2 separate regions of the Homo sapiens genome follow, and region 1 is reported to be linked to region 2. Evidence: microRNA targets listed by miRTarBase, many of them from high-throughput screens and not tested one by one. Region 2 holds a microRNA gene; the other region holds the end of a gene's coding sequence.

Region 1 (3,402 bases), not on the chromosome of region 2:
GCCCTCAGACGAGCCAGAGCCAATCTTCAGTCAGTACCGCATGCCTCAGCCTCACGCCCCCGGGTCACTGAGCCAATCTCAGCTGAAAGCGGTGAACAGGTGGAGAGGGTTAATGAACCCAGCATCCTGGAAATGAGCAGAGGAGTCAAGCTCACGGATGTGGCCCCTGTAAGCTTCTTTCTTGTGCTGGATGTAGTCTACCTCGTGTACGAATCAAAGCACTTACATGAGGGGGCAAAGTCAGAGACAGCTGAGGAGCTGAAGAAGGTGGCTCAGGAGCTGGAGGAGAAGCTAAACATTCTCAACAATAATTATAAGATTCTGCAGGCGGACCAAGAACTGTGACCACAGGGCAGGGCAGCCACCAGGAGAGATATGCCTGGCAGGGGCCAGGACAAAATGCAAACTTTTTTTTTTTTCTGAGACAGAGTCTTGCTCTGTCGCCAAGTTGGAGTGCAATGGTGCGATCTCAGCTCACTGCAAGCTCTGCCTCCCGTGTTCAAGCGATTCTCCTGCCTTGGCCTCCCAAGTAGCTGGGACTACAGGCGCCTACCACCATGCCCAGCTAATTTTTGTATTTTTAATAGAGATGGGGTTTCACCATGTTGGCCAGGATGGTCTCGATCTCCTGACCTCTTGATCTGCCCACCTTGGCCTCCCAAAGTGCTGGGATTACAGGCGTGAGCCATCGCTTTTGACCCAAATGCAAACATTTTATTAGGGGGATAAAGAGGGTGAGGTAAAGTTTATGGAACTGAGTGTTAGGGACTTTGGCATTTCCATAGCTGAGCACAGCAGGGGAGGGGTTAATGCAGATGGCAGTGCAGCAAGGAGAAGGCAGGAACATTGGAGCCTGCAATAAGGGAAAAATGGGAACTGGAGAGTGTGGGGAATGGGAAGAAGCAGTTTACTTTAGACTAAAGAATATATTGGGGGGCCGGGTGTAGTGGCTCATGCCTGTAATCCGAGCACTTTGGGAGGCCAAGGCGGGCGGATCACGAGGTCAGGAGATCGAGACCATCCTGGCTAACACAGTGAAACCCCGTCTCTACTAAAAATACAAAAAATTAGCCGGGCATGGTGGCGGGCGCCTGTAGTTCCAGCTAACTGGGCGGCTGAGGCAGGAGAATGGCGTGAACCTGGGAGGTGGAGCTTGCAGTGAGCCGAGATATCGCCACTGCACTCCAGCCTGGGTGACAGAGCGAGACTCCATCTCAAAAAAAAAAAAAAAAAGAATATATTGACGGAAGAATAGAGAGGAGGCTTGAAGGAACCAGCAATGAGAAGGCCAGGAAAAGAAAGAGCTGAAAATGGAGAAAGCCCAAGAGTTAGAACAGTTGGATACAGGAGAAGAAACAGCGGCTCCACTACAGACCCAGCCCCAGGTTCAATGTCCTCCGAAGAATGAAGTCTTTCCCTGGTGATGGTCCCCTGCCCTGTCTTTCCAGCATCCACTCTCCCTTGTCCTCCTGGGGGCATATCTCAGTCAGGCAGCGGCTTCCTGATGATGGTCATTGGGGTGGTTGTCATGTGATGGGTCCCCTCCAGGTTACTAAAGGGTGCATGTCCCCTGCTTGAACACTGAAGGGCAGGTGGTGGGCCATGGCCATGGTCCCCAGCTGAGGAGCAGGTGTCCCTGAGAACCCAAACTTCCCAGAGAGTATGTGAGAACCAACCAATGAAAACAGTCCCATCGCTCTTACCCGGTAAGTAAACAGTCAGAAAATTAGCATGAAAGCAGTTTAGCATTGGGAGGAAGCTCAGATCTCTAGAGCTGTCTTGTCGCCGCCCAGGATTGACCTGTGTGTAAGTCCCAATAAACTCACCTACTCATCAAGCTGGACTTGTTCGAGTCATTCTTTGGTCTCTCAGCTCTTTCCAAGCTTTGGGGGCCATCAGTCTCAAGTTTTTCTCGTAATGGTGGTGATGGTGGTTGTGATGGCAGCAGAGTGGTGGGGGCCTTGGCAAGTGGTCGGTGCTCTTCCAGACCAGGGGACACCGATGGACCGATGAAGTTCCAGGGGAACTTGAAGTGCTGTGTTGGAAAGAGGTTAATTTGGGAAGAAAGGAAAAATGAAAGGAGATGCCAGGAACAGGTCAAGGAACCTTGAGGTGTGTCCAGGAGTTCAACCCCGCTTGTGGTCACGAGACCTCGCCTCTCTGAGCCTCAGTTTCCTCATCAGCTGTAGAAGGGTACCTGGACAAGGTGATGTCTCAGGTCCACCCAGCTCTCCCCATCTTGTGTCCTGGAGACTTGGGTCCAATCAGCACTGACTGATGGCTGTGCCTTTGTGGTGCCGATGGAGGCTCCCCTGGGCTCTGGGTGCCTGACTTCCCTTCCTCATGATCCTTCTTCCAGGGTCTCGGGAAACGAGGCTTCCATGGCCCCTCCTGCTTGCTCACTGGACTCTCACTTTCCCAGCTGGTCATTTCCCTGAGACCTCAAAACCCCACCAACCCCACTGGGGCACCCACAGAAAGCTTGTACATGTCTGGCTCTGGCTGAGCACAGGTGTGGTTTCCATCTGCGAGTCAGAGCCCGGGATTGACATGGGACGCTCGAGGCTGACTAGTGTCAGAGGGGCCTGTGTGCAGATTGGGAGAAGATTATCGAGTAATAGAGGGGCAAAGAGGGACATCCAGACAGCAAACACCCCCATCCAGTCTGTCCTCACGTTTTGCCCAGACTCCTGCAAGAACTTCCAGAATGGTCTTCCATGTGCAACTGCCCGTCCCTGCCCATGTCCTGGATCATTCTCCACACTGCGCCAGGTTGGGCTTTAACAAGATCATGTTTTGGGTTTTTGGGGGTTTTTTGTTTGTTTGTTTGGTCTCACTCTGTTGTGAGGCTGGCGTCCCGTGGCATGAGCATGGCTCACTGCATCTTGGACCTCCCGGCCTCAAACTACCCTTCCACCTTGACCCCCTGAGTAGCTGGGACCATCCGTGTGTGCCACATTGCCCAGGCTGGTCTCAAACTCCTGAGTTCAGGTGATCTGTTCGCCTTGGCATTCCAATGGGCTGCAATTACAGACACGAGCCACCGTGCCCACCTAAGAACATAGATTTGATCGAGCACCCACTTCTGACCATTCAATGGCTTCCCATTACTCTTAGCACAAAGATGTAGGCCATGATGCTGCCTAAAGTAGCCTGTTGCGGCCTGGGGTCCTGTGAAGGAAGAGCCAGAGGCAACGTTCTGGTGCAGAGGGTTTCTAGGAAGTGATTCTAGGAGCAGAACTGAGGATCCAGGAGGGAAGGAGGAAACGTTGATACAAGAAGTTTTTGAATGGGCCATCCATATGGGCAATGAGACCTTCTGAGGTGCCTTCAAGGAGCGTCCTCAGAATCTTTGTTTCCAGGGAGGAGACATGGAGGCCTTTATCCACTGCTTTAGCTGTG
Region 2 (3,402 bases):
TGCCACTTACTATGGGGCTCTGGCCACGACAGCTTCCCTGAACCTCCATCTCATTTAGGGAGCAATGAAACTTGACTTGCTCCTCAGTTATAACCATCCTCACCTAAACCACAGAACACAGAGGATACCTCACGCAAATGCTTCCTCCCTTCTCCCCAGGATGGTACCTGATCACCCATCTCATCCTAGGAGGGAGTGATGAAGCCATCACATAGGATGCCTGCCTCAGGGCATCAGGGTTTCATTCTGTCAAGACAGGCTGGTATGGAGGAGGTGAGCATCACAATTCAACAATACCCTGCAGGTTCCCTGGGGAGCCAAAAGAGGCATTAAACATGGAGGGAGCAGAGGCAGGAGCAAGGGGGCTCAGTGGGAGTCCAGAGAAGGATGTGGGTACAGCAGAGGCCAACAGAAAAACAGCAACCTACTCTATGCTCCCCCTTTACTGCTCTTTCATTTGTGATGCAAAGATGAGGAAAATCAGGTAAGCACTTTGTACCAATGCATTTCTCTCCACAAATGTAAAATACAATTAAACATTCCAGGTACTGATTTTCAAATTGCCATGTATTATATAGTTTCCCTCAAGAAAACCATGTACATTTGGTGTTCATTCCTGGTGTTTTAGAAATAACAATGATAGTTCTTTCTAAAACATTTGAATTTATACCACTGTGATGTTATGATCCCATTTATGCTATTACATGTCTCATAGGCAAACATTTCTTAAATGTTTAGTTTTCAGACAAAAAAGAAAGGAAAGCACTGATGAGTTCCCCTTCTAAGTGAAACCTTCCAATGCCTCTTAGCTCAAGGGAAAGGAAGGGGAAAGAAACTTTGTTGCTTCCAGCAGCAAACAGAGAGGTCAACCTACCAAGCTATAGGGCCAGGCATTGAGCCCTGAACCAGAGAAGCCTTAGAGCCAACTTTGTCCTGCTGCTTTCCCTTGAATATGCCATTTTATTTCCCTGGACCACGGTTTCCTCATCTGTAGAATATAAAGTCCCTTTCAGCTATCAAGGTGCATGCTCTGCTTCAGTATCTGTAAAGTAGAAATACTACTTGCCTCCAACTCTTAGGAAGATAAAGACTAAAAAAGAAATGTTTGGACAAGGCTTTAAGATTACATAATGAAATGGATATAAATAAGACTCATACAGTCACACAGCTAACAGAGACCATAAAGATCTGTCCAGCTAAAGTGAAACGGAACTCTCAATGCACGGGAGGAGACAGCTGGCAGTAGTCTTCTTTTTTAATTTAACTTAATTTTTTTAGAGACAGAGTCTCTCGTTCTGTCACCCAGGCTGCAGTGTAGTGGCAAAATCATAGCTCACTGCAGTCTCAACCTCCCAGGCTCAAGAGATCCTCTCACCTCAGCCTCCTGAGCACCTTGGACTACAGGTGAGTGCGCCATCACAACCAGCTGATTTCTTATTTTTATTTTTTAGAGATGGGGTCTTGCTATGCTGCCTAAGCTGGTCTTGAACTCCTGGGCTCAAGCAATCCTCCTACCTCGGCCTCCCAAAGTGCTGGGATTACAGGCATGAGCCACTGTGCCCAGCCAGGTCATTTTTATGCCACTTTCTTCAGGGCTTCCTGTGGCTAAGAGGGAAAGTAGACTGATAGCATGGATGAGGTGACAGCCCAGGCACTGGCCCCAGGCTTTCTGAGGGACAGCCGGCATTAGGTTTTTCTCCATGCACTGTCCTACAGGTATAGAATTCATGTCCTCCACTGGTGTACATTGCAGACTAAATAAAACATGTCATATAACAACCTCCTTTCCAAAGCTAAACTCCAGGCATGCCTGAGTTCAAGAGGTCACCCAGCAGGGAAGCTCCACTGTCTGGTGAGAAGAGGGCCTCCACTGCTAGGCAGTGGCAAGAAGCCATGCCGGTTACCTCCTCTGAGCCTTCCTTTTCTCATCTGTCAAATGGGGACAGTAGTAGATCCTACATTATAGGGATGTGTGGAGGATTTTAAATGAGTACTGATGCACGTTAAGCCCTCAGAACAGTGCTTGGCACACACCCAGAGTTTGGTAGATGCTACCTAACATCAATATTGACATTAATTCTAGAACTATGTAGAGGATACGACTTCAATAAGAAAACAATCAGTCAGAAGCAGTGGCAGAAGGGAGGGTCCTGAAATCCAGAGTCCTCCTGCAGAGATGCAGCTGCCACTCCTCGCCTCTGACACTTGCAGACATTCGGAGAGAAAGCCGTCTGCAAGGTGACAGAGGGCGGACTGGAAGAACACAAGGAACCCAGGGATGCTGATGGAGCATGGAAAACCGCAGCAGAAGGCACTGAGGCAAGGTGTGCCCTCCAGGCGGGGCAGGCTGTGGCTGGGCAGAGCGCCTGCCAGGGAGAAGTAGGGCAAAGGGAAGAAAGCACCTGTGGGAGAAACATGGGGAAACAAGGAAGAAACCTGCATATGCACGGGAGCACAAATAAGGAAGGAGATGGGAGAACTGGGTGGAGGCAGATGGCAAACGTGGGGGCCAAGGGAGGTAGATGAGAATTAGGATATGGGATAATAAGACAAAGCCACATGAAACTCTAAAGTGCGGGAGGAGGGCAGAGAACAGGGAGGGTGCATGACAGGCACCCCGAGAATAATGCAGTGAGGAAGTTTGCAAGACGGGGGAGGGGGACATTAGGAAAAAAGGAGAATTTGTTGGGAAAGGTGGAAAAAGAAAAGGAGTGAGATTTCTCCGCCTGTTAGCAAGGGGAATAAAGGAGAGCAAATCGCTGGGTGACCAGGAAAGGTTCACAGAGAAGAAAACACGAGGCAGCAAAAACCGAAGGTGGGGACAGAGAAAATGCTGGCAGGGGGAGGTGCATAATATAAGGCTATGGGAAGCCATGGGAACAAGAGCTGAATAAATTCACAGTATTATTCTATTTATCCACATCCCTATGCAATGCTGGGAAGCAAATGACCCACAGGGTTTTGTTTGCTTGCTTTGGTTTGGTTTTCCTGCACTTGGAGGGAGGGGAAATTTGCTCAAGCTCTGTAACCTTGCAGTCAGATGGGTGGCCCAGCCCAAGTCACCCGAGCTCCCCCTGACGCTGGCAGCAGCGCGGGCTTCTACCTGCCTGGGGCTGGAGTACCAATTCCCCCACCTCCTGCACAGAATGGGACCAAACCAACTCCGCCAATGCATTCCCTGCAGTCCACAGACGATGGGCACCGGGTCCCAAAATCTTTCCCCTGGGACGAGACTCCGCTGGTACCAAGAGAAACTTGCTTTCTAAACTAAGCTCTCCAACCGCATCGCTCCGGGTCCCCGGAGGCACCAGCCACGCCACCCGATGGAGCAGAGCGTTACAGGGCTCCGCCGCGCCAGGCTCCCCAGACTCTGCCACCCCCACGGCCGCCCCTGTAGGCCAG

Evidence for each region. The annotated mature microRNA hsa-miR-2276-3p reads UCUGCAAGUGUCAGAGGCGAGG and lies in region 2 at 2,191-2,212, opposite strand. An mRNA with a match to its seed (bases 2 to 7 or 8) in the 3' UTR can be bound and repressed. Matches are read on the target gene's strand: a 7mer-m8 pairs with bases 2 to 8, a 7mer-A1 pairs with bases 2 to 7 and ends in A, and an 8mer does both.
Region 1: the mRNA of APOL1 is a reported target of hsa-miR-2276-3p. Seed matches in the 3' UTR shown: 7mer-m8 at 1,153-1,159.

Annotation. Positions count from the first base shown.
Region 1 is chr22:36,265,689-36,269,090 of GRCh38, forward strand. It overlaps APOL1 (apolipoprotein L1), which reads left to right. Exons shown (of 6, transcript NM_003661.4): 6 at 1-1,837. The coding sequence ends at 345. Among named protein-coding and RNA genes, the nearest start is that of APOL1, 14 kb to the left of the region's middle.
Region 2 is chr13:24,161,279-24,164,680 of GRCh38, reverse strand. It overlaps MIR2276 (microRNA 2276), which reads right to left and starts at 2,265; the gene lies at 2,177-2,265. The region is part of intron 1 of SPATA13 (spermatogenesis associated 13); the gene reads right to left.